Linked DNA regions of Homo sapiens. The protein of the gene in region 7 purifies or fractionates together with the protein of the main gene of each other region. This does not show direct contact. Each region holds a gene or a part of one and is shown on either strand. Other genes may lie near its edges.

Region 1 (4,080 bases), on a different chromosome or scaffold from region 7:
AGCTTTGTCAATTTGGGAATGAAGAAACTCTAAAAGATCACTAGGTGCTTGCTCTTTGTTGCTCTGATAGCCTATGCCATTAGCCCCTACATTCCTTCTTTCTTGCAGTGACCGCATCTTCTCACTCATTTCTTGTAATTCTTGTTTTAGTTGGGCAATTTGGCGTTTCAGACTGGTTGCCCTGGTCTGATAATGTTCTTCTTGTTCCTGTAGGAGGGCTTGATAATACTCTTTACCATAATTTTCCCCAACAACACCAGGAAGAGATGCATTTCCATCAGTCTGGGGGGCACATTCCAGGAGGTACATAAATAATACCAAACTGCAGAGCAAAGCAAGGCCCAACAGCAACCAGTGGGTCCGGGTGTGAAGAATCAGTCCTCTTCTAGGCATTCTTATTAATGTGTATTTGCCTAACAAAATAAGCTCTTTGTGTGTTCATACCTTTAGTAAAAAGTTATCAAAAATTAAAAACAAAATCAGAATTTCCATAAAATAATTCTGCCGTAGCTTTAAGTTTTTCTTTCTTCAGCAGTCATGACTACTTGCAGAAATGGGAAATTATGTATACTTTCTGTATTGTTACCATGATATCCAGAATAAAGCAATCTGATATATAAAATCCATTATATTGGTAGTGATTTTTCTGAAAGACACAGATCAGAATCAATCAGAATTTTGTTCCCTTAAGGATATCAAATTTGTTTGTGGCTTCAGTAAACTTAGCTACGTGACTACTACATGCAGAGAACTATGAGAGGTACTAATATAATTTAGAATATTCAGTAAATACTAGGAGAATTTTTTTTTTTTTTTGAGATGGAGTCTCACTCCGTCACCCAGGCTGGAATGCAGTGGCACAATCTTGGCTTACTGCAACCTCTGCCTCCTGGGTTCAAGTGATCCTTCCATCTCAGCTTCCTGAGTAGCTGGGACTACAGGCATCTGCCTACCACTCCCAGCTAATTTTTGTATTTTTAGTAGAGACAAGGTTTCACCATGTTAGCCAGGCTGGTCCTGACCTCAGGTGATCTGCCTGTCTTGGCCTCCCAAAGTGCTGGGATTACAGGTGTGAGCCACTGAGCCTGGCCTGGGAGAATTTTTTAAAATACCTTAAAAAACAATAAACTATGTATAATACTTTTAACTATTATGTCTACACAGCTATAACTTGAATCAAAGAAACATTAAAATTACGTCAGCATAGTCTGTATTACATATATTCTACTGTTCTCTAATTATTTGAAAATTATATTGCCTATAACTCTTTATTAACATAGTATTTCAATTACCGCACCATTTCCCAACTAAAGCTTATGACCATTTGGGAACTGAGTTTATAGAAACTGTTTCTGTTACAGTAATAACGGTTTACTGGAGAGAGAGATTTTCTCCCAGTTTATTCAACTCAAGCATTCTACCTCATTAATTTCTACTGCTCAGCTCAGCCAATCTAGGAGACTTAAAATTAAGTGGGGGAAAGAACAACTTCAAAAGCTCACAGACATCTGAAAAACACATTAAGAAAACATTTTTATATCCAATGTCCTCCAGTAGATTATTTGCACATTAGATCACATAATTCTTTCCACTGTATTATGCATCAACAGATTTCCTACAAGTCTAGAAAGGTTTGGAGTCTATATAAAGAAAAAACATGAAGAATTTAATCATCCTTATCAGCAGAGAAAAAAATTCAAAAACCATTTATACATTTATAAAATTACATGCTATCGTTCATGCCACAACCAGTTGTGCGAACTCTTCCATGTCTTTAATGATTCTTAACTCTAAAAATAGAGGTTTAACTTAGGACAAGGGAGGCAAGGAGGACTCCACTGCAAAGAGAACTTCCATTGTAACAAAGTGCTTGTTGAGAAGGATAATGTGATATGACAGCAGGTTTTTAACAGTAATGGTTTTCTCACTGCAGCAAAACCTGGAAGATCACTACAGGTTATCAGTCCTAGCCACTTTTTTAATGAGTAGAAAAACCTGGATGCTTTCTGTGGCAAATGCTGCAATGCGTATTTTTTTTTTTTTGGTAACATGTCTGTATAAAACATAGGACAGAAGAAAACTTCTTATGGCCAATATACCACAAATAATGGTCTTAACTCTCCTTAGTCATTTATTATTTTAGTAAACGAAATGATAACCAAGTATCTTGAAAAATTTAACTCACTACAAGGGAGTCCTTTTTTTTTTGAGACAGAGTCTTGCTCTGTCGCCCAGGCTGCAGTGCAGTGGCGCGATCTTGGCTCGCTGCAAGCTCCGCCTCCTGGGTTCGCGCTATTCTCCTGCCTCAGCCTCCCGAGTAGCTGGGACTACAAGCGCCGGCCACCACGCCCGGCTAATTTTTGTATTTTTAGTAGAGACGGGGTTTCATCGTGGTCTCATCTCCTGACCTCGTGATCCGCCCGCCTCGGCCTCCCAAAGTGCTGGGATTAGCCACCGCGCCTGGCCAAGGGAGTCTTTTACTATTACAGCATCTCTCTTACTGATTATAAATCTTGTTTGAGTGATGTAGAAAAAAACAGAAAAAAAATAGTTGGCTTTAAGAAATACCATCTAATCAAAAAATAACTAGTATTATTTCCAGGACTTAACCATACCTCAAAACCATAATCCCTAGCATAAGAAAACACTTGAATTTCATTATTTAAAAGATAAACCTAGCGGTATCTGTTTTAACTATTACTAGCCCATTTATTAGGAAAAAGAACTGAAAATGTGGAGACATAATCTTGTATAATAAAGATATACATACTTTAATTAATAAAGATATACATACTTAAGCATGTTATACTCAAAACTGAAGTGAAACTGGGTAACAGAACTACCACTATCTTTTATTAATATGGTACCTCATATGTTTTCTTTATATACACAATGTATTTTAGACTATGAGCTATAACTCAGACAATAGGTCACTACTGAAGGTTTACTTTTCAATAAAATAGAATGGAAATTATCAGTGGCAGTGTTAAAAAGCTAAGGTCATTTTTCTTCCTCTTCCCTTTAAGGGAAATACAGGTTTTGAGATATCCTACTTAATATTACAGTTGAATATTTTCCAATAAAATGAAAGGATACTGTAATTACTTCAGAATGTAAAAGTTGCATAATTCTGTGGTTATTAAAAATGAAAGATTTCAATTAAAATCTTATTTGCCTAGTTCCCGAAAGAAACTCTTTGGCCATAATCTAGAAGATTACATTATAGCTGTTCTATCATATAAATATATTAAGAATATTATAGAAAACATTTTTCTGTTGTTACATCTTGATTGTCATCATTCTATGAAATGTGTTTGTATCATGAATACGGTTCATTCACAGCCCAGAGTTAATCCCAACAAGCCTTCTAAGCACAAATGCAGATAGTTAAGTGTTTTGAGGAGAGAAAAGGATAATGTGAAGATGGGAAAATAAGCTGTTAAAGGTATGTAATATGAAGCCAAAGATCTCAGGATTGAAAGAAACCTTACAAGCCATCAATTCTAACTCTCTAAAACTGCTTAAAAAACTGACTTCCTTTTACGACCAAGATGAAGTAACGGGCCAGATTTACTCTCAGATTTGCTCTCTTTGGTTGTCTTGAAACAACCAAAAACAAACAAACAACTTTTCCTGCCAACAAACCCAAAATATGAAACAATGATTTTCAAGATATTTAACATCAGGTAACAAAGGACAGTGATCCCCAGAGAAACAAGAAACAAGTGGTTGCCAGCTTACTGCCTTAGTTTCTGAGCCACACAAGGAGGGGAACCTAAGCAGAGCCCAGCAGATTCCCTGAGTTCATGGGATGCAGCTCATAGTCTGAAGAGACCAAGGTATCTAGGATTAAAGCATATAGTACCAGAGTGGATACAGCTGCACACAGAGAGAACTCCAGAAATCTGAATAGGATATCCCATGGGTATTTGGCAGAGCACTGATAAGTAAAGGCTTATGAGGCAACTAACGGGCTAAGGAAAGGACCACACACAAAATTAGAGGACACAGAACCCAGCATTCATACAGGGCCAGGATTAGTGCATGTTCCCAACAGACAGACTGGAAAACCTCAGAATT
Region 2 (4,080 bases), on a different chromosome or scaffold from region 7:
GGGACTGGAAAGCAGGGACATTTCAAAAGGTTTAAAGCTTCAGCTGCCCTTAACTCCAAGGTCTTACCTTCCTGGGGAGCCTGAGGCATTCTTGTCTCCAGAGTGAAGCCACACCTGCCCAAGCTGGGAGCAGCCCAGACCTCCCTCCCAGCCTCTCCCTCCACAGCCCTCACCATTTTGATTTTCTTGGCAGAGTGGAGCGTGTTATATGTTATCATTGCTACCTTTGTCATTGTTGTTGCCTTGGGAATCCTGTCTTGGACTGTGATCTGTTGTTGTAAGAGGTAAGATGGATTTTCCTTTGAAATTCATTCGGGCTTCTTGTCATACATTCGTTCCTCAGAGAGGTATTTGGCACCTTCCACGTGGAAGGACTGGGCTGGGTCCTTAGTCAGCATTAGAGAGTTCTGACCCACCTAAGGCATGCACGGGCAGCTTTGCTCACCCTGAGACTCTCCTGAGGGCAGAGGCACACTCCTTCAGTGAGTGGCAGCCACTGCAGTGATTTGGAACCTGGGAAACATGGCTGGGCGGGAGCAGGGCAAGGTGGGGGAGTGAGCGTGAGGGCCAGGGGTACAGACCCGGATCACATCTGTAAGGTGTGTTTTCTTTAATGCACCACACTGTAGCCTCACCAGCATAGCCCGCGAGTTTTTAATTCTGCCTTCTTTCTAGTTGGGATTCATGAGTGTGCATGTTTCCACACATGCACTTTAGGCTAGCCAGGCTCAGGCGTCCTGTGTTTTTTCATTTGAGTCTTCCTATTGAGTCTTCTAAGATGGAATGGTTACATTTATTTTATGTTTTCATTATTAATAATATTATTTCTGTGTATACTGTGTGCCATAATATTTTTATAGGTAATATCATTTTTAAGACACATAACCTTTTCCCATTTTACAGATAAAAAAACTTAGGCTCAGGAAAGGTACATCACTGTCTGAGGACCAGTTGATAGTGACAGAGCTGAGATTCAACTTTCAGTATAACCTCTTATAAAACTTAGAACTAAAGGAATTTTTAAAAATTCCCACCAGTCTAAGACAACCACCATTACCAACTTTGTTAGTGTAATGCCTGTCTCCTCCCACACCCTTCAAGCAGAGGATTTTGTTTTCTTTACGTTTTTAACCAATCTGTCCTTCATTGCCCCTGTGGGATGGTGAGTCCGTGCCAAGGTGGTCATAGCTCCCTTGCCCTTCTCCAGAATTGCTGAGGAACATTTGAGGAACAAATCACAGTTGCCACCTTTCCTGGCTGAGAAGTGAGGAGAGGACACCCCTCTCAGTAGGTGCCCCACCAAAATAGGGCCCTGCATGCACATCTGGCTCTCATCCTCATCCTCCCAGAGAACCTCTTTCCTGAGCAGGGGTGGGGGTTGTGTTTTTTAGGCAAAAAGGAAAACCCAAGAGGAAAAGCAAGTACAAGATCCTGGATGCCACGGATCAGGAAAGCCTGGAGCTGAAGCCAACCTCCCGAGCAGGTAGGGGCCCTGGGTGCCAGAGCTTCTAGGTCTGTGCACTCTCTCTGTGGAAGGCTGCTGTCACTAGCCCCTCCTGAGTGTGTCACTAACAGCCCACTGTGCTTGCAAAGCATTTTGTTCCCTTTTGCCTGATGAAGACTGAGGGTCAGATTTGCCCTGAGCTGCACTGGACAAAATGCCTCCAGGACCCACTTCGCGTGCTACTTCCGCTTGGCGGGGGTGCTGGGCCTGTTGTTTTCCTTTGCCTGGGCATTCTCCTCATGTTTCCCACCTGGAGTTCCGCTTTTCCAACTGCCCCAGGTAGTCAGGGTCAGGGACCTTGGACTTGTCTCTTACTGCTGACCAGTCTGTGCTTTATGGGCAGAGATGAGACCCAGGCCCGTGTCTGCCAGCTGACCACCTTTCAGCCAGCCTTGTTCTCCTGTCTTCCTATCTTTATCATTTGGCAAGTCCTCAGCTTCTGTCAGTGTCTTAGGGCAGATAGGAGGGCATTTCCTTGCACAAACAGTAAGATGACTTTGAGTGATGGCACTGGGAGATCAGGGCAGGTAGTAGGCCTTCCTTCCTCCGCTGGGCTGGGTCACCTGGCGAGGGTTTCACTCATCATGGATGCCATGGGACAGGTATCATTGGTTTATGAGAGCTAGACTCTATAAAGCGATTCCTAAACACTCTGCAAGTAGAACTATTTTTATATAAAGCATTTATTAAACACTTTTCATGCTTAAAGCTTTGTGTTAGGGAGAGGCTATGGGGGTATAGGGAGTCATCAGACACAGGCTGTGCTCTCAGTCTAGTGAGGGAGAAAAGACACACAGTAGCAGAAGAGAACAGGCTCACAGCAGTCTGGACTCTGCACCAAGCAGCTCGATCCACCAACACTGTCAAGGTGGAGACTGGAGGTGGTGGGGCTTGAAATGAGCCCAGGAAACCAGAGCAGTGAGGGCGGGCGGGGCATTTCACCCAGGAATATTGAGAATGAGGGCCTGGAGGTGAAATGTGCAAAACCCACCCCTCACACTGCAGCCAAGGTTTTTATCATGTTACTCTGATCATGTTTTTCACCCCCTGACATTCTTCAATGACTTACTATTTCTAGCACAAAAAGCTAGAACTTTTGGTCTGGTAGATGTGGCCTTTGTGAGCTTACATCAGTTTGCTTTTCTGGAATCTTTCTCTTTGCTGATCTCCCTCTTTTCTAAACAAGTTCTTCTGGTTCATCCAGTAATCTCTTTCTTTTTTAAAAATGTGGCGACAAGGTCTTGCTCTGTCACCCAGGCTGGAGTGCAGTGGTATAGTCATAGCTCACTGCAACCTCCAGCTCCTGAGCTCAAGTGGTCCTCCTGCTTCAGCCTCCCAAAGCAGCTGGGACTACAGGCATGCACCACCATACCCAGCCCTAGAAAGCTCTTTCTTATCCCTCCCTTAACCTCCTCAAGTTGTGCTCACCTTTCTCTCACATGCCTGGGTCGGCATTTCTCTCGCTGTCTCATGATTAGTTATGTTTGCCTGTCTCCCCACCCATCAGTGAAATCCCTGAGGGCAGGGGCTGTCTCATTCATCTGTGGATATGGAGCGGGACCACTATGTGCCAGGCCCTGTGCCAGACACTGCTTATATTGTGGTGAATCAAACGGACAGACTTCACTCTTGTGTAGCTTATGTCAGACAGACATTAAGCAAACTCACAAATACATAAAATATGCTCATAAAAGGCCTTTATGAAGAAAAACACTTAAGCTGAGACCTGGATAAGTGGGAGCTAGCCAGATAAAGCTGCAGGAAATAGCATTCCAGGCAAAGGAACAAAACTGGTGCAGACCCAGCTGCTAGAAGGAGCAGAGAGCATTTGAGGAGGTAGAAGAAGGTGACATGATGGACAGGTTCACCTTCCCACAGAGTAAGGGGTGAGTGACCCAAGGCTCAATGGATGAGCAGGGTCCCTGCTGAGGACTTCTCTTGAGTACAATGGGGAGCCACTGATAGCTTTTTAAGGGGATGAATGGTGGGATTTGGTTTACATTTATTATTATTTGAGACAGAGTCTCACTCTTATCACCCAGGCAGGAGTGCAGTGGTGCGATCAAGGCCCACTGCAGTCTTGACCTCCTGGGCTCAGGTGATCCTTCCACCTCAGCTTCCTAAGTAGCTGGGACCACAGGCATGCGCCACCATCCCCAGGTTTTTTTGTTGTTGTTGTTGTTGTTTTGTATTTTTGGTAGAGACGGGGTTTCATCATGTTGCCTAGGCTGTTCTTGAACTCCTGGGCTTAAGTGATCTGCCTGCCTTGGTCTCCTAAAGTGCTGGGATTATAGGTGTGAGCCATGGCACCCGGTCTTGGTTTATATTTTAAAAAGACAACTGTGTAGCTGGGCGTGGTGGTGGGTGCCTGTAATCCCAGCTACTCGAGAGGCCAAGGCAGGAGAATTGCTAGAACCTGGGGGTGTGAAGGTTTCAGTGAACTGAGATCACTCCAACCTGGGCAATAAAGCCAGACTCTGTCTCAAAAAAAAAAAAAAAAAAAAAAAAAAGATAACTGTGGCTGACAGATGCAGGGGTTGGAGGGGAAAGGCTAGCTGAAAGGAAGTTAGATAGAA
Region 3 (4,080 bases), on a different chromosome or scaffold from region 7:
CCAGCCCCTCAGGAGGTCCTCAGGGGCAGGCGGGGGCTACATCAGGCCCTGAACAAAGGAGGAGAGAGGATGAGGGGACGGACAGAGTCATTAGGGTCAATGATAGGGTGCAGAGAGGATGAGGTAGAGTGGGGAGAAGAGATGGGAGAAGACAGTTTAGGGTCCAGATGGTCTATAGCACAGGACCCACGGCTTCCAGCATGGAATACTCTGGAAGAGCCCTCTGACCTCTGGGGACAGCAGTTAGGACCCTGTCCCTATTCCCTCCATTCCTGCTGCATCTCCAGGAGCAAAACACTTACTCTCAGTGGGATCACCTTCATTTGCTGGAACCAGCAGCCTCCTCCTCTGAGACCTTTCAGCTTCTGCCGGTTCCTGTAACACATAGTGGGGAATGTCCTGGTCAGAGCCAGGAGTCCTACAGTCCAGTACTGACCCCGACCACCAGCCAGCTCTGAGACCTGCAGCACGTCACTTCCAGAACATTGTTCTGAAAGGTCTGGCAACAAGACAGGAGACAAAGGGGCAAGACTCTCGGAAGGAGGCCGATACAGCAGTCAATATTTTAGATTAGGAGTGTATATTTTTAAAACCCCAAGGTTTAATTTGTAATACTCAAAAGTGAATATGTCTTGATGATTTTTTTTTTTTTCGAGACAGAGTCTCACTCCGTCTCCCAGGCTGGAGTGCAATAGTGCGATCTTGGCTCACTGCAACCTCCACCTCTGGGTTCAAGAGATTCTCCTGCCTCAGCCTCCCAAGTAGCTGGGATTACAGGTGTGCACCACCATGCCCAGCTAATTATTTTATCGTATTTTTATATTTTTAGTAGAGACAGGGTTTCACCATGTTGGCCAGGCTAGTCTCAAACTCCTTACCTCAGATGATCCATCCGCCTCGGCCTCCCAAAGTGCTGGGATTACAGGCGTGAGCCACTGCACCTAGCCCTGATGAATGTTAAACCACATAGCAGAGGCCAGGCATGGTGGCTCACACCTGTAATCCCAGCACTCTGGGAGGCTGAGGTGTGAAGACTGCTTGAGCCCAGGAGTTTGAGACCAGCCTAGGCGACATAGCGAGATCCTGTTTCTAAAAATAAAATAAAATAAAATAAAATAAGCTGGGTGTAGTGGCACAAAACTGTCGTCCGAGCTACTCAGAAGCCGGTAAGTCCGAGCTTACTTGGCCTTAGAAGGTCAAGGCTGCAGTGAGCCATGATTGTACCACTGCACTCCAGCCTGGGTGACAAGAGTGAGACCCATCTCAGAAAGAAAGAAAAGAAAAGTAGCAGCAGACATAATAAATTAGAAAATGGACTTACAAGAAGACCCAAAATGCAAAGAAACAGCTTTGATGAGGAATAGGAAAAATTTATCTGAAATAAACTCCCAAATCTCGATTGAGTCATAATAGAACACTTGACTTGAAATATTATCTTCTTTGATAATAAAATTGAATGTTGAAAGGATGTCAATCATTCCTAGAACCATGTATTAATTTAAATTAATATTTGTAAAGTCTAGTGACTATGTGGGCGGGAGGGGTACTAGAGAAAATCTTATAATTCTAAATTTTATCTAATTCTAAATTATAAGATGTGTAAAAATAATTTTGAAAACATATTTGCTGTCTAAGATATTAAAACATATTAGACAGTTTTGTTTGGTGTTGTACATGATATAATCCTTTTCATGTCAATACCACATAAATACATATGCATTTATGTACCTAGATGGTATATGCATAAAGAGTTTAGCAAAGAATCACAAGAAATTATCCACTGTAGTTACCTGAAATAAGAAGGGCCAAAAGGCTGGGAAAGAGTAAAGAAGGCTCTTGGTATGATCAAGTTTTTTCATACTCTGGTGGATGTGTGGCTATGGGTGACCTGCTTTCAAAAAATGATCAGGCCAGGCATGGTGGCTCATGCTTGTAATCCCAGCATTTTGGGAGGCCAAGGAGGGTGGATTGCCTGAGTTCAGGAGTTCGAGACCAGCCTAGGCAACATGACCAAACCTCGTCTCTACAAAAAATACAAAACTTAGCTGGGCACGGTGGCACATGCCTATAGTTCCAGCTACTCAGGAAGCTGAGGTGAGAGGATGACATGAGCCCAGGAGGCAGGGGTTGCAATGAGCCAAGATGGTGCCACTGCACTCCAGCCCAGGTGATAGAGCAAGATCCTGTCTCAAAAAAAAAAATCTTCAAAGTCATTAATAAGCATGGAGGAAGTATTGGCATTGTTCATTTGTTTCCTTTTAAAATCTCTTCTCTTTATTTAAAAAGAAAGTGGTACAGATGCAAGGAAGAAACAGAAACAGTCTAGGTGGAAGAGATCTCTGCCCATATAAACATTTGACATTTTCAAGGATAAGATCTAGTTTTTTTTTGTTTGTTTGTTTTTTTAAAAAAGAGTGAAGAGGAAGAGAGAAAAAAGTAAACATTTGACATGTAGCAAAGGAGGTGGCAAAAGGGCAAAGGCAAGGGAAAAAGGAAGAATTGGTTGCTAAATGGGCTTGGAAGAAGGAAACAGAGACTCAGAATAATTCAGGGAGTTTCTCAGCTTATATTGAATCGAAAATTCAATTCTGTTTAGATTATATTGCTGTATGTTAAAAATCAAATCATTAAAAATAAAACACTGCAGGAAACTGGATAGTCTCATCTTATGTTCGAGGGAAGGACTTTCAGTGCTTACGAGCAATGAACAATAAATGTATATACAGATTTCCTGCCTACTCAATATCACATCAAAACTGATGGATTGATATGAACTGATTGTGTGCGTGTGTCCAATACAAAAGCCCTTTGTGCATCGACTTGGAATCCTACTTTTTGGAAGCTGCCCTACGAACTTTGAAATATGTTCAATGTAATAACAATTTCAGAGTAAATTTAAAACTCCTGCTGTTACAAGCAAGGGCTCACTGACTTCTGTTAGGAGCATACGATGGAGACTGTGCAGCCTTATTCACTCATCAATGAACCCTGTGACCCCCACTCTATGCCTGTGGAGCTCCAGGCTCGGGGGACACAGCAAGGACAGGACAGGGAGTAAGAAGCAGATGTCCTGCAGACTGGCACGGTCACCACCTCAGTGCAGCTGCTCCATCCCCTGCAGTCCCCTGGCTCCTTCAGGTTCCATTTCCCCTGGGCCAGGAGAGCTAAGGCACTGCCCTCTCCCACTGTCTACGAAATCCCAGGTGAGCAGCATGCCAGGAAACAAAATGATCTGTCCCCCACTCACCAGCAGATGCTCTGACTCCCCGGGGGACAACATGTTGACACCTGTTGGCTCTGCTGGCTCCTGGACTTCCATTTCCTGCTCAGGGACCTGGGTGGGCTGCAAGATACTCACGATCTCATTGAGGACATTGTCCTCAGCCCCAGGTCGTTGTGAGCTCTGGAAAAAGACATTGGGAAGGCAAAAAGCCGACTCAGGAGTCCACACCTAGGGCTCGCTGCAGGGTCCTCAGTATGCAGCTGCACCTGACATCCCCACCCCCTCTCAGTGAGGTCACCGCAGGCAGCCCAGACTCAGCACATCCAGGACCCGCTGCTGGGGCCAGGCCCCCAGTGCTGTGCTCAGGCAGACACCCCATCCCTAGGGTGCAGGCTGTGGGGTGAGGATGTCACCTGGGCTGCAGCAGGGCTCACCAGCCTATGTGGTGCTCAAAATGGCCATGTGTCCCCCACAGTCAGCCCAGAGCACCCAGGCCACTTCAGAGAGTCAGGGCAGCCATGAGGACAATGGGGACCCACCCACCCAGGTTCTGCTGTCCCAGGAAGCAGTTCCTGAACCCCTGAGCCCCCAGCTCCTGGAGAAATCAACTCACTCTGTCCACACGCTCAGGGTCCCCACCACCACCTAAAAAAGAAGCAGTCTCCTTAGCAGGAAGGGAGGGGCCCATGAAGCACCCCCCTCCCAGAGGACAGTGGGGCGCAGGGCTGGGCTGGGGGCTGGGACACTGGACAAGGAGCCCTGGGGCTGGGGACAGAATGGGGCCTTACAACTCAGAGACACCCTGAGGAAGGGGGATGAGAAGGGGAACTAGAGTAAAAACAAACACTTGGAAAATC
Region 4 (4,080 bases), on a different chromosome or scaffold from region 7:
TGTGACTGAAAAAGAGCCCACAGTTTAATCAGAAAAATACATTTATTGATAATTCCCATGAGCTCCTATTTGATACATTTATATCATAGGATAACAAGTTCGAAACTATTGCCAAGTTATAAATATGGAATTTATGCACAATTTGCATGTATTAAATTGTATTTTGAATCGGCGTGTGTGCCTATATTTGAATATTTATAATATTCCAGAAAAAGCACAGTGGAATGTGCAAGACAGATTTATTTAGTGTAATGCTCTGAAATGTGTCAAAGTCTTCAGCACAGTTTTTAGAGGCAAAATGGCAGAAATAACAAATGGGATGCAATAAGACCAACTGAATAATCTGCAAAGTTCAATACCTAGTAAATGAGAAAAGCTCTTTTGCCAATAAATATTTTACTAAAGTTTAGACAAATATTTATCTAAGCTTACAAGGACACTGTTTTAGAGGACATACGCCATTAAGTGGATTATTCATTATCCTTTAATGGAAAGGGGGAAATTCCCATCCATACATCTCTTTTTAAACTCAGTGACTAAATACCTCATTTCATGTGTCACAGAATGTTAATATTAGCTTTTCAACTGTGAGGGACATTCTTTACACTGTCAAAACAACTTGTACCTACGGTGTAGTTTCAGTGGAGTTTCAACAATAAGATTATGCACCTCACTATATGTGCATAGAGTGGTCCCTCAGATATTGGAATAGTTGGACAATGACATTTCTAATCAACTTTATTTATGGTTAACTGGGGGTAATACTCTTATGCAGTGAAACTTCTCTAGGGGGCGCTGCTTAGCAAAGTGAACTCTCCTTTTCTGCTGGACGAGAGCAACACATACACTAACTGATCTAAGCTCCCAGTTATGGATGTTTAGAACTATAGCCCTTTACCAACCCCAAGATTTTAACTCTTCCAGCCAGACCATCAGCCCTGGTGTCAACTCACTAAGAAAGAAGCTCATGGAGATCCAAAGTCCAGACTATCTCGGATGGCTCTGGCTGAGCAGAATAAGCTTTATATTTCCAACTGTGTACCACTATTAACTTCCTGTTCCATATAATTTATAAATTAAAATTTATAATTTATAAATGAGAAAGAAACAATAGCAATTCACTCAAGTAGCTCTATACCATACTGGTATAAAAAGAGTTCCATGCATTGTGTGGGAATATGATAAAAGTCAGTTATCGAAAATCAGCAGCCAATGTCTGACTCATCACCTCTGCCTTTCAGGGTGAGGGTTTATTAGGGCTGAGGCTACTCTCCTCATTAAAGGCTCCCAGGATATCAAGAGGCTAATGAAATAACCAGCCAGGAACCAAAAAAGTAGACCTGTGTGCAATTAATCACAGCTTAGTAAAACATTATTTTAAAAATTGTTAATGCTTATTGTTATTATATAAGTAATGTAGACTCAAAGAAAACTCAAAACCTTCAGAAAAGCAGAATAAGAAAATAAATCACTAATAGATCTATTTATATTCTATTATTTTTTTCTTCCAGTCTCTGTCTTTTATGCTTAGATTTGGGAGGGGTAGGAGATGATTTCTCTCGCTCGCTCGCTCGCTATCTTTTTTTCTTTAATATAATTGTAGTCGTACTGGGTCCATAATTTTCTATCTCTTTTTCTCTTAGCATTAAATCACTAGCAATTTTCCATGCTCTATCAAAGGACATTTAAGTGGTTTTGTAATAATCTTTCAAGTGGATGTACTGAGATTTCTTGAACCATTCTTCTCCATGTGGATGTTCAGATTGTTTCCAATTTGTTGCACTTATGATAACTCCAGTTAGTCTCCTAGTATGTGTTCTCATAGCATCCTGTACTTTTCCCCCATGGCACTTCATATAATTTTAAGTAATTGATAATTTGTTTTCTGTCTATCTTTCCCACTCCTACGAAGGCAGGGACCACATCTACCTGGTTCTTCCCGGTAACCCCAGCACATAGCACAGGGATACCAGATACTCAATAAATATTTGCTGAATCAATAAATAAATGAGTGAATGAATGAAAGCATGTATAAAAGTATGTTTTTCTGCAAAATCCCAGAAAAGAAATTATGGGTCATAGAAATAAATATTTTTATATTCTGTGTTTACACTATTTATTTCCAAAAAGATCATTCAAGTTACATTCCCACTGACAATGTATGAGAATTTTGATATTTACCATGCCCTTGTCAGCACTGTCTACTTTTTTTGTTTGGTGGTGATATATGTTGGGTTTTGCTTTGTTTGTTTGTTTGTTTTAATCAGGGTTAGAGAGGCAAAAAAAGTATTCTATGTTTAAATGTGCATTTCTTTAGTACCAGTGAAATAAAACAGTTTTTCCATGTCTGCAAACTAGTTGGGGGTCCTATGTTGTAAATTGTCTGGTCATGTCCTTTGATTCTCTAATCAGCTCGTGAGAGTTCTTTGTACAGTAAAGATTTCAACTTTGTGTCTGTTGTAATTGTGCATATTATTACCAGTTTGAAACCTTTTCGTTTTGGCTTTTTTTTGACAGATAAGCATATCTTATTCTTATGTAATCATAACTATTGATCTTTTTTCCTTTATTCAAACATCCTTTTCCTTGGCTAAGAGTCCCATATGTGAATTGCAGCTATCACTTAAATAACAACGCCAATTGTGAATTCAGATTAACTGGGTCCACAGATTCCCACATATAATGTACGATGGAGCCCTAACCTGCCCCAGAGCCCCAGTTGTCACCTCCTTATAAGTCCTGTCCACTAGAAATCTAGGCAACAGGAACCAGTCATGACTTCTTAGTACTCTCCAGCCCGAACCAGATCCCCTTCTCAACCTCTCTGTTTTGGTGGCTGGTACCACCTACATTCCAGACTAGATATCAGGGAGATAGCTTTACCTAGACTCCGACCTTTATTTACTTTCATGGTGTTTTTGCACTCTTTCCATCCAAGAGCTTCTCATACTTACTGGGGTTCCTCATTGCCATTCAAGTCCTCCACAGTGGAGCCTAACCCCATCTACTTCCCTAACCATTATTACTCCAAGCATGAACCTTTCGGGTCTGGCCAGACCTGCCTAGGTGAGGTTGCTGGACCTCAAAAGGTCATGAGGACTCCGTGCCCACCCACAATGCCTCCTTTCTTCTTAATACAACTCTCCTACTCCCAGAGGCCTTCTCAAAAGGATGTCTCCTTTTTCTGGCCTGTTCCTCATACTTTAGAAAGGAAAGGGCCCTGGAAAGCATGTCATTTAAATCTCCAATTTTATAGATAAGACACTGAGACCAAGGGAAGGAAAAGGGCCTGTCCAAAATCTAAATTTCCTCTCCCAGCACCTGTCTACATGACATAGTCCTGCACTTCACATGCTAATCTTTATGGACTTGAGGCTGAAGATGGTTATCTTGGCTTTTTTGGTTTCTTCTTGGCTCTAATCTCCCCACAACTGCTAGCACCATGCCAGAGACATAATAGTTACTCCATCTGCTTTGCCGATTAGACCCAAACTACAACATAACAGATGGACTTTTGTCTATTTTTTGTATATTCTGGTAAATGTATGACATTTTAAAGACATTATTGATTTTCAAATTGTTTTCAAACAAAATCCATTTTTTAATTAAATATCTAAAGTACTAAATTGTTCTGTTCTACCATAAGCTCTGTGAGACAGAGAATGATGTCTCTTCCCTGGAATATAATGAACAGTTTCACAAAATCTTGCTTAATGAATGACAGAAAAAAACGGATGGCTATTCTTTTAATGTCATTACATACTACCTCAGTTGATGACTGATATCCATGAAAGACAAGCTCTAGCATTTTAATTGCCCCATAGCACTGATCTAAAATTATTATTAAGTGATGTTAATTCTGAATAGCCTTTTGTACTACCTGAGAACTTACAGCTTTGTAAGGACTCCAACACCATGTTCGACATCCATGCAAAGATGCTAATTAATACTACTGGAATTCTACAGATATTGTAATGGTAGATTTCTCCCCCTCTTCTATGAAATAGCTAAGATGGTACCACAGCTCTCAAAGACAGCTGAAGAAATGTATCCTCAGCTAAGTAAAACTGAGCCCAACAG
Region 5 (4,080 bases), on a different chromosome or scaffold from region 7:
TTTGACACCAAGCTCAGGAAATATAAAACGGGTTAAGTATAAACCAAGCTAGGTTTAAATGAAGTTCATTACTGGCTACAGTATATTAAGGGAACATATTCGAAAAGTCTGTATTTGCCTTTGTTCTTGCTGCTGACTCTTCTGCTTCTTTTGGTGACCTTCCCACAGCACAAGAGTGGTTAGGTGTGAGGAGGCTAAGAATACCTTGCCAAGAGCTTCAAATAATGTTAAAACCAGTATTTTAGGTGAACCATGGTCCCAAGAACTCTATTTAAGTAATTCCTAGTTCGGTGTCCCAGGAGCATTTGGCTTTACTGCACCTATTTTGGCCACATGTCTTTGTTTAAAAGGAAAAATTATCTTAGGTTATAATACAGCTATTTTGGGAGTACCTTAAGTTTAACATTAGATTACTAGGATTCGAAAAAATGTACCCAGATGGTAGATGCTGATGAGAATTTGACACAAGAATTCATTTGAAATTGAAGCTTTTGTAGTATTAGTCAGAAAAATTTATTGACATCTGGTTTTGAACAGCATAGTGAGTGGAGATTGAGATGATCAGTTAAAATTTAATGGATTGTGGCCGGGCACAATGGCTCACGCCTGTAATTCCAGCACTTTGGGAGGCTAAGGCAGGCATATCACCTGAGGTCGGGAGTTTGAGACGAGCCTGGCCCACGTCTACTAAAAATACAAAAATTAGCCAGGTCTGGTGGCATACGCCTGTAGTCCCAGCTACTTGGAGTCTGAGGCAACAGAATTGCTTGAACCTGGGAGGTGGAGGTTTCAGTGAGCCGAGATCCCACCATTGCTCTCCAGCCTGGGCAACAAAAGCGAAACTACATCTCAAAAAAAAAAAAAAAAAAAGAAAGAAAGAAAATTTAATGGATTATGGAGCTCTACTTCACATTAGTACACCTCGGTCTCTCTGTTTTTCTGTCTCAATTCAAGATAGAGTTCTTTGTAGCGGTATGGTTTAGAGGTGGTATGTATTTTACAAGTATGTCAGTTGGCTCTGTATATCCTGATGATACCGAAGCCAGGACCAGACCCCTACGTCAGTTATATCACTAAATATTCTGTTATTAATTTTCAGATTGGCTCCTAGTCCCAGCCAACTCATGTTTTAAATTAATATAGTTCATTGTCACACTGGACTGGAAAAACCAAATGAAATGTCTTTATTCTATGAAGATGACTTGTGTAGACTATACAGACTAGCAACAGCAGACACTTTCAGTGCGAGTTATTTTAAAAAATTGAAGATTTGACTGGCAGAAAAGTTGCTGAGATAGGGAAAAGGGATATCTATTGACAGATATATGTAGAATTAGGGAGAATTTTATGTTTTCATAAGTGTCTCAATTATTTAAGATTTAATTTGGTGTGCATGTGGAATATAATGGTAACATGGTTTGTCTGTGATTTGTCTTTTGTCTTAACAGATTATTTTTCTAACTTTAAAAAAGTATACATCACTTGAGGCCAGGAGTTTTAAACCAGTCTGGGCAACACAGGAAGACCCCATCTCTACAAAACATAAATTTTAAAAAAAGTTAGCCAGGGTCACAGTGTGCCATAATTGTGCCACTGCACTCCTGCCTGGACAACAAGAGTGAGATCCTGTCTCTCCAAAAAAAAAAAAGTATGCAAGTGATAAATATTCACTACAAAATATTTGAACATGCAGATACACAACAAAAAGGAAAAATTCCCCTGTACTCCTATTACCTAGAAATAACAGTGTTGAACTGTAAATGTCTCATTCTAGGCCTCCTTTCCATTATATGTCTGCCTTTTTAAAAAGGATTATATGATGCCTATTGTTTGGCAAGTTTAGCTTTTTTCATGTAATAATAGTACACTGTAAATATCTATTTGAGTAATGAAATTTAATTTTTTTTTTTTTAAAGACATGGTCTCTCTCATGCCCCAGGCTGGAGGGCAGTGGCACAATCTTAGCTCGCTGCAGCCACGACCTCCTGGGTTCAAGCCATCCTGCTGCCTCAGCCTCCTGAGTAGCTAGAACCACAGGTGCATGCCACCACTCCCGGGTAATTTTTGTATTTTTTGTAGAGACAGGGTTTGTTTTGCCATGTTGCCCAGGCTAGTCTTGAACTCCTAAACTCTCCTAATCTCAAGCGATCCCACCCACCTAGGCCTCCCAGAGTGCTAGGATTACAGGTGTGAGCCACCATGCCTGGCTGAAATTTAATGTATATTTTTTTTGACACAGAGTTTCACTCTGTTGCCCAGGCTGGAGTGCAGTGGCACCATCTCAGCTCACTGCAACCTCCGCCTCCCGGGTTAAAACGATTCTTGTGCCTCAGCCTCCTGAGCAGCTGGGACTATAGGAGTGTGCCACCATGCCTGGCTAATTTTTGTATTTTTAGTAGAGATTGGGTTTTGCCATGTTGGCCAGGATGGCAAAATTTAATTTTTAATGGCCGTTTAGTAGTCCTTTGTGTGATGTACTATAATTTATTTGTCTCCTATGATTGGAATTTAGGTTGTTTCTAATTTTTGCTGACACAACACTTATATGTACCCATTTTGCCTCTTTGAATATTTCCATAGAATAACTTCCTGGGAGTAGAATACTTTTCTTAAAGGATTTGTGCATTTCAAGGCTTTCAAAATACGTTGCCAAATAGCTTTCGAGAAAGGCTATTTATTTCAGTTTTTGGGTTCTTATCTTTCTAATTGGCTTTATGCTTACATTAAAATATGAAATTTTTATTTAGTTGCAGAATGAAGAAGAGTCTGGAGAACCTGAACAGGCTGCAGGTGATGCTCCTCCACCTTACAGCAGCATTTCTGCAGAGAGCGCAGGTAGGTAACAGGGCAAGGTGATCACGGAATCCTTAAAAACACTCTGTGCTTTGACATTACAGTTTAAAAAAAAAAAAGCTTCAGAAGCAGTTGGAAGAAAGGTTACAAAGCAAGTCTGGATTTTAAATAATTGAGAAGTGGATACATTTAAAAATCACCCCCAGTCTCTTACATTCATCTAAGAATGTCTTTTGGTTCAATTGTTATGTATGTACTCTTAAGGGAATGGCTGGGTTTTGTCTGCTAGAGTTAGTGGAACTCCTTTTATTTCAATTCAGCTAATCATCAAAAAATTGTGACTGTTAAAATTCTGCAGCATATTTTGACTACAAGGATGAGTCTGGGTTTCCAAAGCCCCCATCTTACAATGTAGCTACAACACTGCCCAGTTATGATGAAGCGGAGAGGACCAAGGCTGAAGCTACTATCCCTTTGGTTCCTGGGAGAGTGAGTATAATTTGCCATGTTACTTGATGGCTGCTCTGTGGGAATTAAGTTATTTTCATTATCCAATTTTGATTCGTTACTTATGATTGTATTGATTAGTGAAAGTAGAGCTAATTTTAAAAATCAGGTACATTTGCTTTTGGGATAATAAACTCATCTCTTCTTAAAAATGATGAGGTAAATTACTAGTCAGACCTGCTCATTTTTCCTTCATCTCTCCTATTACCACTACTTTTTCAAGTCTCCTGGGATGGCTGAAGTATCTTGAAGCAGAAGCACACTAATGTTTCCTTGATTCTGCACACTTAATATTTTGCTGTTGGGTGGATAGCTGCTAGGGAGGTCTAGGAAGAGAATAAATATATGCAAATTTGTAGAATTAAACTCATAAGAGGGATCTTCACATTGATTTAGATGAACTCCGTTCTTCCAGCAGTCCAGATCATGTCATTTGTGGGGACATAGTGAGTTCAGATTCCATCTAGCCTGATGTTGATTCATGGAGGTGGAGATTGGGATGCCATATAAACCAGTGGAGATTATTGGGCACTCTTGGTTCTTGATGTCAGATATGTGAGTGCTGCATTTGTCATTTTGTAAATATTCATCCAGATTGAGGCTGATGAAGGTAGGGCATTGTGGGAGAATGGAAGCAGGATAAGTCCCCAGAAATGCGGGGACCATCAGGCCTCTAGGCTCTATTCTAGCAAGTAACTGGAGTGAGTGATGAGCAAGTACAGAAGCCTAGTCTGGGCAGTGTGATGGCATAGGCCCAGATGTTCCCCTCTTGGCTTTAAG
Region 6 (4,080 bases), 290 kb from region 7:
GCCTGCATAACAAAGTGAGTCCCTGTGTCAAAAAAAAAAAAAAAAGTAAAAAGAAACAAAGATGGTAACAGCCCTTTCCCCAAATAAGCCCCTTTCTTGCCTGAGGACTGGACTGCCTTTGCAAAACTAACAAATAAGCCACAAGATTAGAAATTATGGCTTAGGCATCACTATTATAAAACCTAAGTTCAGTGCTTGAGATATTTTATAGACCCTGTCCTCGATGGTTGGCAGCACCCCGTTGGCAGTACCTAGGTTGATAAACTGGCTCATCTGGTCTTGTGTTTTATCCGCACAACCAGTTCCTTGTGAATTAAACTCTTTCTCTATTGCAATTCCCCTGTCTTGATAAATCAGCTCTGTGTAGGCAGTGGGCAAGGAGAACCCATTGGGCGGTTACAATTTCCTTGTACCAGGTACCAGGCCAGGTGAAGTTATAGAAAGAACTTAACTTTCACAACGAATCTCTGAGGTAGGTATTATCATCTGCATAATACTGATGCAGAAACTAGGCTCAGAGGGCTAAGTTACATCACACAGGCGATAAATTTGTCAGATCAGATACTTCTTTTTAATTATTTTTTTATTATTATACTTAAAAGTTCTAAGGTACATGTGCACAACGTGCAGGTTTGTTACATAGGTATACATGTGCCATGTTGGTTTGCTGCCCCCTTCAACTCGTCATTTACATTAGGTATTTGTCCTAATGCTATCCCTTCCCTTGACCCCCACCCCGACAGGCCCTGGTGTGTGATGTTCTCCTCCGTGTCCGTGTGTTCTCATTGTTCAACTCCCACTTATGAGTGAGAATATGCGGTGTTTGGTTTTCTGTCCTTGTGATAGTTTGCTGAGAATGGTTTCCAGCTTCACCCATGTCCCTGCAAAGGACATGAACTCATCCTTTTTTTATGGCTGCACAGTAGTCCATGGAGTATATGTGCCACATTTTCTTAATCCAGTCTATTATTAATGGACATCTGGGTTGGTTCCAAGTCTTTGCTATTGTGAATAGTGCCACAATAAACATACATGTGCATGTGTCTTTATAGTAGCATGATTTATAATCCTTTGAATATATACCCAGGAATGCAGCCCAGTTATTTCTAACTCAAAGGTTCTATCCTTCCACTATACTTCGAGACAACCCTAGGTGTATTCCAGTTACAATAAATATAATTTTACATCCTGAATTTAATCCATCAACTTATTGGTATATTCCTGTTATTGATATTTCTTCATATATCTTAGCACTGCCCATGTGATAACCTAAGCTTCACAATTGCCACTTGAGTTTCCTAATCTGTACTACTGGACATTTACTTTGTTACTTTTTCACCATTATAAATAATGCCATAATAAACATGTTTTGCTCATACGTTCTCTTCAGCATAGATGATTTTCCTAAAAAATATTCCAGAAGTATGAATATTTTAATGGTTTCTGCCACATATTTTCCAATTACTTTCCAAGAGGGAAGTACCAATTTACACCATCAGTGAGCTAGAAGTGTATATAAAGTTTCCCATATGCATGTCAATATGAGTAAAACACTTTTTTGCTCATATGTTCTCTTCAGCATGGTTCCTTTTCCTAAAAAATATTCCAGAAGTATGAAATGAATATTTTAATGGTCTCTGCCACATATTTCCCAACTGGTTTCCAAGAGGGAAGTAGCAATTTACACCATCGGTGAGCACAGAAGTGTATATGAAGTCTCCCATATGCATGCCAATATGAGTAAACCTATTTTTACCAAGTTAATAAATGAAAATTGGCCTTATTTACATTTCTTTGATTCTAAGGTCGAACATTTTTCCATGTTTATCCACCATACCTCCTCTTCTGGGAAGTGTCTGCTCATGTCCTTTGCCCATTTATTTTTATTTTTCTTGCTGACTCATATATATATATATATATATTTTTTTTTTTTTTTTTTTGACCGAGTCTTGCTCTGTCGCCCAGGCTGGAGTCCAGTGTTGCAATCTCAGCTTACTGTAACCTCCGACTCCAGGGTTTAAGCTATTCTCATGTCTCAGCCTCCCCAGTAGCTAGGACTACAGGCGTGTGTCAACAAACCAGGCTAATTTTTCTATTTTTAGTACAGATGGAGTTTCACCATGTTTGTCAGGCTGGTTTCTAACTCCTGGCCTCCAGCAATCCACCTGCGTTGGCCTCCCAAAGCGCTGGGATTACAGGTGTGAGCCACTGTGCCTGGCCCATAAACTCTACGAATAAATAATGTCACATTTTTCCCAGACTCTTGTTTGCAATTCCTTTTGTTTCTTGATATGAAGTTTTTTATAAATGTGCATATAATCTATCCCCTTTCTTTGTGACCTCTTTAATTGATTTGAAACCTGTCTTCCTTCCAGATATGGAAGTTTACTTCCTTTAAGTTTTTTTATGTATGGAGTAATCTATGGCTTAATTTAAAAAAAATTTAATTCTTTAATCCATCTGGAATTTGTGTATGGTCAGAGTTGTAGGTCTAAATGTACTTTCCCTGACACTGCCAACCAGTTATCTTACTATTATTTATTAAATATAATTGTTTATAACACAAAAGGGAGAAGATAAGAATGTGAGAAAGTAAGGCCCTTGGAGAGGGAGAGTGGTCAAGCATCTGCAGAGGGATTAACCTTGAATGGGAAGGTCAACTCTTTTGTTTGCACTTGGCGGAGACAGGGAAAGGCTGGGGGTGGCAGCAGGTGGGTCTGCAGAGAGGAGAGCAGACCTCTGCCTAATAGCTTTGATTTTCCCTGACACACAAGGCAAGGGGCCCACTTCCCAAATTCTTCCCCGAGATACTGGACTTCAGGCTGAATATCCAGCAAAAACCACATAAAGGTTATCGTCCTTGAGTCCTTGGAGGTTATATTCCCTGCTCTTCTGGAATCCTAGCAGCTCTAGCTTCTACCTCTCCTCCCTCCCTCCCTCCCTCCTGCTGTTCTTCACTTTTTATCATGACATCCAGTCCCCCAACCCTCTAGTCATGGGCATGACCCAACCAGGTTCCTAGAACAGTATCATGTACATGCGTGCCACCTTCCTAACTCACAAAGCATGTCCCCCCTTGAACCTCACGACAGCCTGGGATGGAGGACAAGCAGACACCAAGTCCTGGGGGCATGAGCAGGGACTTGTTTGTGGAGACGCCAGGCCCCAGAACTTCAAGCACCCTCCTCTGTTCTACAGATTCTAGCAGGCAGGCTCAGTCACTACAAGACACCTCTCTCCAGCATCTCTCACTCATTCCTGCATCCTCCCGCCTTCCCTACCTCTACCCTCGCAGTCCCAGCCTAGTGATCCCTTTCTCAGCTTCTGCTGGTGCTGCTGGAGAAAGCATAGGAGTTCAGGCTCCACAACCCCATGCTGTGTGACCCTTGGGCAGGTTACTTTCGCTTGCCAAGCCTTGTATACACTAGGGATTATAACAGAACCTAGGCCTTTGTGTTGTTGTGAGGACAGAGTGAGTTCATGCGTGCAAAGGGCTGAGGACAGCACCTAACACCAAAGTCAACAAATGTGGGCATGAAAACAGGGCTGGTGTGTCCTGCTGTAAGTTCGTGCTATCCCATCACCATTTCTTCATGGTGCTTTCATCCACCTCAGATGGATCCAGTCACAGCTCCTCTCCAAGGGCTCTTCTAAACCATTTTCACATGCTCACAACCCAAAAACGAACAATTCAAGAAGGAAAAACTTAGTCTCTGAAGCATAAACAACTTCAACCTGTCAAGCATCTGAGCAGGGGACACACAGGACACTGGGGAACAATTTTTGACCTCCACGCAGAGAGAACAAATGAGCCTCTACAGGAACCTGAGCCGCACCTTCCGCGTTTCCATGTTGCTGGGACCTCAGGAAGTCTGAGCACAGCAGTGTTCTCCCAGAAATGAGGACCAGCACCGCGCTCGCCTATTTTCATCCCAAACATCTACAAAACAATTCCTAGACAAACTCCCCTGGGGAAAGGAAGGGCAACGAAGCAAGCAAGAGGAAAAACAACCCAGAAACTTCTCATAGTAACCTGAAGTTTTTGTTTCTGTTTCTGAGGCAGTGTCTCCCTCTGTTGCC
Region 7 (4,080 bases):
ATAACATCCAAAAATTGTTTTGCTAATTTAGTATTATTAAAAACAGAACAGGCCAGGCACAGGGGCTCACATCTGTAATCCCAGCACTTTGAGAGGCAGAGGAGGGTAGATGGTTTGAGGCTAGGAGTTCAATCAAGACCAGCCTGGCCAACATGGCGAAACCCTGTCTCTACTAAAATTACAAAAGTTAGCCGGGTATGGTGGCACATGCCTGCAGTCCCAGCTACTTTGGAGGCTGAGGAATGAGAATCATTTGAACCTAGGAGGTAGAGGTTGCAGTGAGCTGAGATCGCACCATTGCACTCCAGCCTGGGTGACAGAGCAAGACTGTCTCAAAAAACAAACAACAACAACAACAACAACAAACACACAAAAAACAGAGCAATTATGGAAATAATTTAGTAATACTCACCTATCAAAGTCTGACAGCTTATTCGGGTTACACCACTATTTACAGGTAAGTCATTTACATACACCTGTCCACTCTCATAGGTTATGTTAAGAACAACCTTAAAATAAAGCAGCATATACATTAATTCCAATATTTATAAACAATAGCAAACTCTTCAAGTCAAAAAAGATTAACTAAATGAGACGTGCAAGTTAAAAAATCAAATAAGCTGCATAGCACTTAGCTAAATTATATATTAAAACCAGAAAAGGAGACAAACCTGCTGTTTAGATATGTCCCCATCATCTTTCAGTGTAGTTACATTAATTCTGATGCCGTCCTGTAAAACAAGTATTGTGTAAATTGGAAGGTGTGCATCTCACAGATTGAGAACAACGTGGCTTTCTCTTTTCCCTCCAATTGTATCTATTGTACAATCACTTATAACAGCATTAAGAGAGTTTAAAAGATCATCTTTTCCATTTTATAGCCATTTTTCCACCCTTATTTACAATTCCAATTATTTATTTATTTATTTATTTATTTTTTGAGAGTCTCACTTTGTCGCCAGGCTGGAGTGCAGTACCGCAATCTGGGCTCACTGCAATCTCCATCTCCTGGGTTCAAGCAATTCTCCTGCCTCAGCCTCCCGAGTAGCTGGGATTACAGGCATGCACCACCACACCCAGCTAATGTTTGTATTTTTAGTAGAGATGGGGTTTCACCATGTTGGCCAGGATGGTCTTGAACTCCTGATCTCGTGATCCGCCCTCCTCGGCCTCCCAAAGTGCTGGAATTACAGGCGTGAGTCACCGCGCCCGGTCTAATTTTTTATAATATATACTTTTTCTATTTACTTGTGAAAAGTATCACATGAGTATATAATATGCAAATATAGAGTTTAAAAGATGAGCACTCCTGTAAGTACCACCGAGGATAAAATATAAAATATTACCCCTACCTTGGCAGGCTCTGCATGATTGCCCTCTATCCCCCCAGAAGGAATCCTATACCCAATTCCATTTGAATCATTTCTTGCTTTTCTTTATAGTTTTACTACCTGTGTCTCTCTCTCTAAACAATATGTTGCTTAGTTTTATCTGTTTCTGAGCTTTATGTAAGTGGGATAACAGTACACATGTATTCTTCCGTAACTGTAGTTGATACTGTTGATGCACATAGCTGTAATCACAGTAGTCCATCTCTGACTACCAATTTACTTATTTATTCTATTACCCACGGACATCTGAGTTGTTTCCAACTTTTTTCCTTTTATAAATAAAGTTGCAATGACTTTTTTTTTTTTTTTTTTGAGAGGGAGTCTCGCTCTGTTGCCCAGGCTAGAGTGCAGTGGCGATCTTGGCTCACTGCAATCTCCGCCTCCCGGGTTCAAGTGATTCTCCTGCCTCAGCCTTCTGAGTAGCTGGGATTACAGGCATGCATCACCACACCTGGCTAATTTTTGTATTTTTAGTAGAGACGGGGGTTTCACCACGTTGGTCAGGCTGGTTGCGAACTCCCGACCTCGTGATCCACCCACCTCGGCCTCCCAAAGTGCTGGGATTACAGGCGTGAGCCACCGCACCTGACCAAAGTTGCACTGACCCTTTCTTGAGTGTGTTTCTTATACAAGCATCTGTAATGCTCCAATTTTATTGCCTCTCAAGGTATTATCAAAAGCAGGATACCCAAATATTGAAGATGACATGCTTTATATACAGAAGCAAGCACTATTTTAAGAAGTATTTACCACTGACCACAGGAACTACAATCTATCATTTCTAAATCAAATTCTTTCCTAAGTTTATTCACAAATAGACATTGTTATTCTGGAATAAAAACAATACTCTCAAATACTTTTTCTTTGAGGTTGTATTAACTTAGAAAATAGGAAAACTGTTCATAAACATCAAAAAGAATATACAAGTATATCTGCTGGCCCTGAGTATCCTAAATACTTTATATATAATTTCCCACAAATGAGAGAATAAGACTGATGAAATTTCATGAGGTCGAGCTGATTCCAGGAATAATTTGTGAAAGAGGATTCATACCACACAAGACCAACATCATACATTTAGGGTGACTTTGGTTCACTTCCCAACTAGGAGCCTAGGAAGCTTTCTAACTAGAAATTCCTCAGAACTAGCCAGCTTTTTCCTGGCTCACCTTGATCTAGACGGTTAGAACCAATAGTGCATCTAAAACAAATCCACATTCAATGAGCTATGAGATTGATAGCTACATTGTTTTGTGTCCAAATTCAAGTCATATGGATCTCCTTTGCAAACTAGAGAATGTATTAATTATAAACTATTATTCTTCTAACAGCCCAGAAGTAAGCCTCCAATGTTGTTCTAGGAAACCATTTTATAGCTTCTGCCTTTTAGCAGTGAACACTATATTGTTAGCAAGTTACTGAACTTTATATATATATATATATATATATATATATATATATATATATATATATATATATATATATATAAAACCTACCTAGTAAAATTACAGAGTTTGAAAAAGACAATTAACAGACACAAGCACACTATATTTTCCAGAGAACCAAGTACAACAAAATTATTTTCTGGTCTTTCTGAATGATTTCACTGCAAAAGGGAATCACACTCCTTACTGCCCCCTGGCCAGGAGTTCAGAGCCAGGTCATATTTATTGTTCTTGAGAACTTCTGATTGAACTGGAAGTTCAGGCTCGTAAGCCAGGGTTGCATATACTTAAAAAGTGCTTGGGGACACTGAAAAGTTTCTCCCTAAAAATCTTCAATTCTTCTAATTCCTTTACTCATAGGATGCCCACTGGGGACATAAGTGTCTTCCTAAGAATAAAGGTAATAGACAGCTGGTTTAAAATACGTCTGAGCGAAATATACAGTTATGCATACAAGAAAGTAAGTGTCCTCCGAATGCCTCTCTTTGGTGACCAAGTTATTTTAGTATTAGAAGAATTTACTATAAAGACTTTTATTTTTCGGTCGGGCATGGTGGCTCATGCCTGTAATCCTAGCACTTTGGGAGGCTGAGGCGGGTGGATCACCTGAGGTCAGGAGTTTGAGACCAGCTAGCCAACATGGTGAAACCCCGTCTCTACTAAAAATACAAAAATTAGCCAGGCATGGTGGCACGTGCCTGTAATCCCAGCTATCTGGGAGGCTGAGGCAGGAGAATCGCTGGAACCCGGGAGGCAGAGGCTGCAGTGAGCCGAGATTGCACCACTGCACTGTGCAGGATGGGGGACAGAGCGAGACTTCACGTCAAAAAAAAAAAAAAAAAGTGACCGGGCGCAGTGGCTCACACCTGTAATCCCAGCACTTTGGAAGGCTGAGGCGGGTGGATCACTTGAGGTCAGGAGTTCGAGACCAACCTAGCCAACATGGTGAAACCCCATCTCTACTAAAAATATAAAAAAATTAGCTGGGCGCAGTGGCGGGAGCCTGTAATCCCAGCTACTTGGGAAGCTGAGGCAGGAGAATCACTTGAACCTGAACCCAGGAGGCAGAAGTTGCAGTGAGCCGAGATCATGCCAGTGCACTCCAGCCTGGGAGACAGAGTGAGACTCTCTCTCAAAAATAAAAAACAAAAAATAAAAAAATAAAAATAAAAATACAAAAACTAGCCAGGTGTGGTGGCACGCGCCAGTAGTACCAGCTACTCAGGAGGCTGAGATAGGAGAAT

The links.
Region 1: the proteins of GINM1 (region 7) and CSGALNACT2 purify together in Homo sapiens (affinity purification with mass spectrometry; 3 studies listed by BioGRID and IntAct, with this or other methods). This does not show direct contact.
Region 2: the proteins of GINM1 (region 7) and KIAA0319L purify together in Homo sapiens (affinity purification with mass spectrometry; 3 studies listed by BioGRID and IntAct, with this or other methods). This does not show direct contact.
Region 3: the proteins of GINM1 (region 7) and TNFRSF10B purify together in Homo sapiens (affinity purification with mass spectrometry; 3 studies listed by BioGRID and IntAct, with this or other methods). This does not show direct contact.
Region 4: the proteins of GINM1 (region 7) and HS6ST2 purify together in Homo sapiens (affinity purification with mass spectrometry; 3 studies listed by BioGRID and IntAct, with this or other methods). This does not show direct contact.
Region 5: the proteins of GINM1 (region 7) and NDFIP1 purify together in Homo sapiens (affinity purification with mass spectrometry; 3 studies listed by BioGRID and IntAct, with this or other methods). This does not show direct contact.
Region 6: the proteins of GINM1 (region 7) and LRP11 purify together in Homo sapiens (affinity purification with mass spectrometry; 3 studies listed by BioGRID and IntAct, with this or other methods). This does not show direct contact.

The regions. Positions count from the first base shown.
Region 1 is NC_000010.11:43,151,463-43,155,542, reverse strand, and holds part of CSGALNACT2 (chondroitin sulfate N-acetylgalactosaminyltransferase 2), read right to left. Parts: intron 647-4,080; 5' UTR 394-646; coding exon 1-393. UniProt on the Homo sapiens protein: Transfers 1,4-N-acetylgalactosamine (GalNAc) from UDP-GalNAc to the non-reducing end of glucuronic acid (GlcUA). Required for addition of the first GalNAc to the core tetrasaccharide linker and for elongation of chondroitin chains.
Region 2 is NC_000001.11:35,438,450-35,442,529, reverse strand, and holds part of KIAA0319L (dyslexia-associated protein KIAA0319-like protein), read left to right. Parts: intron 1-193; coding exon 194-284; intron 285-1,391; coding exon 1,392-1,483; intron 1,484-4,080.
Region 3 is NC_000008.11:23,023,886-23,027,965, forward strand, and holds part of TNFRSF10B (tumor necrosis factor receptor superfamily member 10B isoform 1 precursor), read right to left. Parts: intron 3,869-4,080; coding exon 3,837-3,868; intron 3,404-3,836; coding exon 3,248-3,403; intron 376-3,247; coding exon 303-375; intron 1-302. UniProt on the Homo sapiens protein: Receptor for the cytotoxic ligand TNFSF10/TRAIL. The adapter molecule FADD recruits caspase-8 to the activated receptor.
Region 4 is NC_000023.11:132,948,297-132,952,376, forward strand, and holds part of HS6ST2 (heparan-sulfate 6-O-sulfotransferase 2), read right to left. Parts: intron 1-4,080. UniProt on the Homo sapiens protein: 6-O-sulfation enzyme which catalyzes the transfer of sulfate from 3'-phosphoadenosine 5'-phosphosulfate (PAPS) to position 6 of the N-sulfoglucosamine residue (GlcNS) of heparan sulfate.
Region 5 is NC_000005.10:142,129,061-142,133,140, forward strand, and holds part of NDFIP1 (NEDD4 family-interacting protein 1), read left to right. Parts: intron 1-2,747; coding exon 2,748-2,835; intron 2,836-3,151; coding exon 3,152-3,282; intron 3,283-4,080. UniProt on the Homo sapiens protein: Activates HECT domain-containing E3 ubiquitin-protein ligases, including NEDD4 and ITCH, and consequently modulates the stability of their targets. As a result, controls many cellular processes.
Region 6 is NC_000006.12:149,857,476-149,861,555, forward strand, and holds part of LRP11 (low-density lipoprotein receptor-related protein 11 isoform 1 precursor), read right to left. Parts: intron 1-4,080.
Region 7 is NC_000006.12:149,568,936-149,573,015, reverse strand, and holds part of GINM1 (glycoprotein integral membrane protein 1 precursor), read right to left. Parts: intron 732-4,080; coding exon 672-731; intron 510-671; coding exon 413-509; intron 1-412.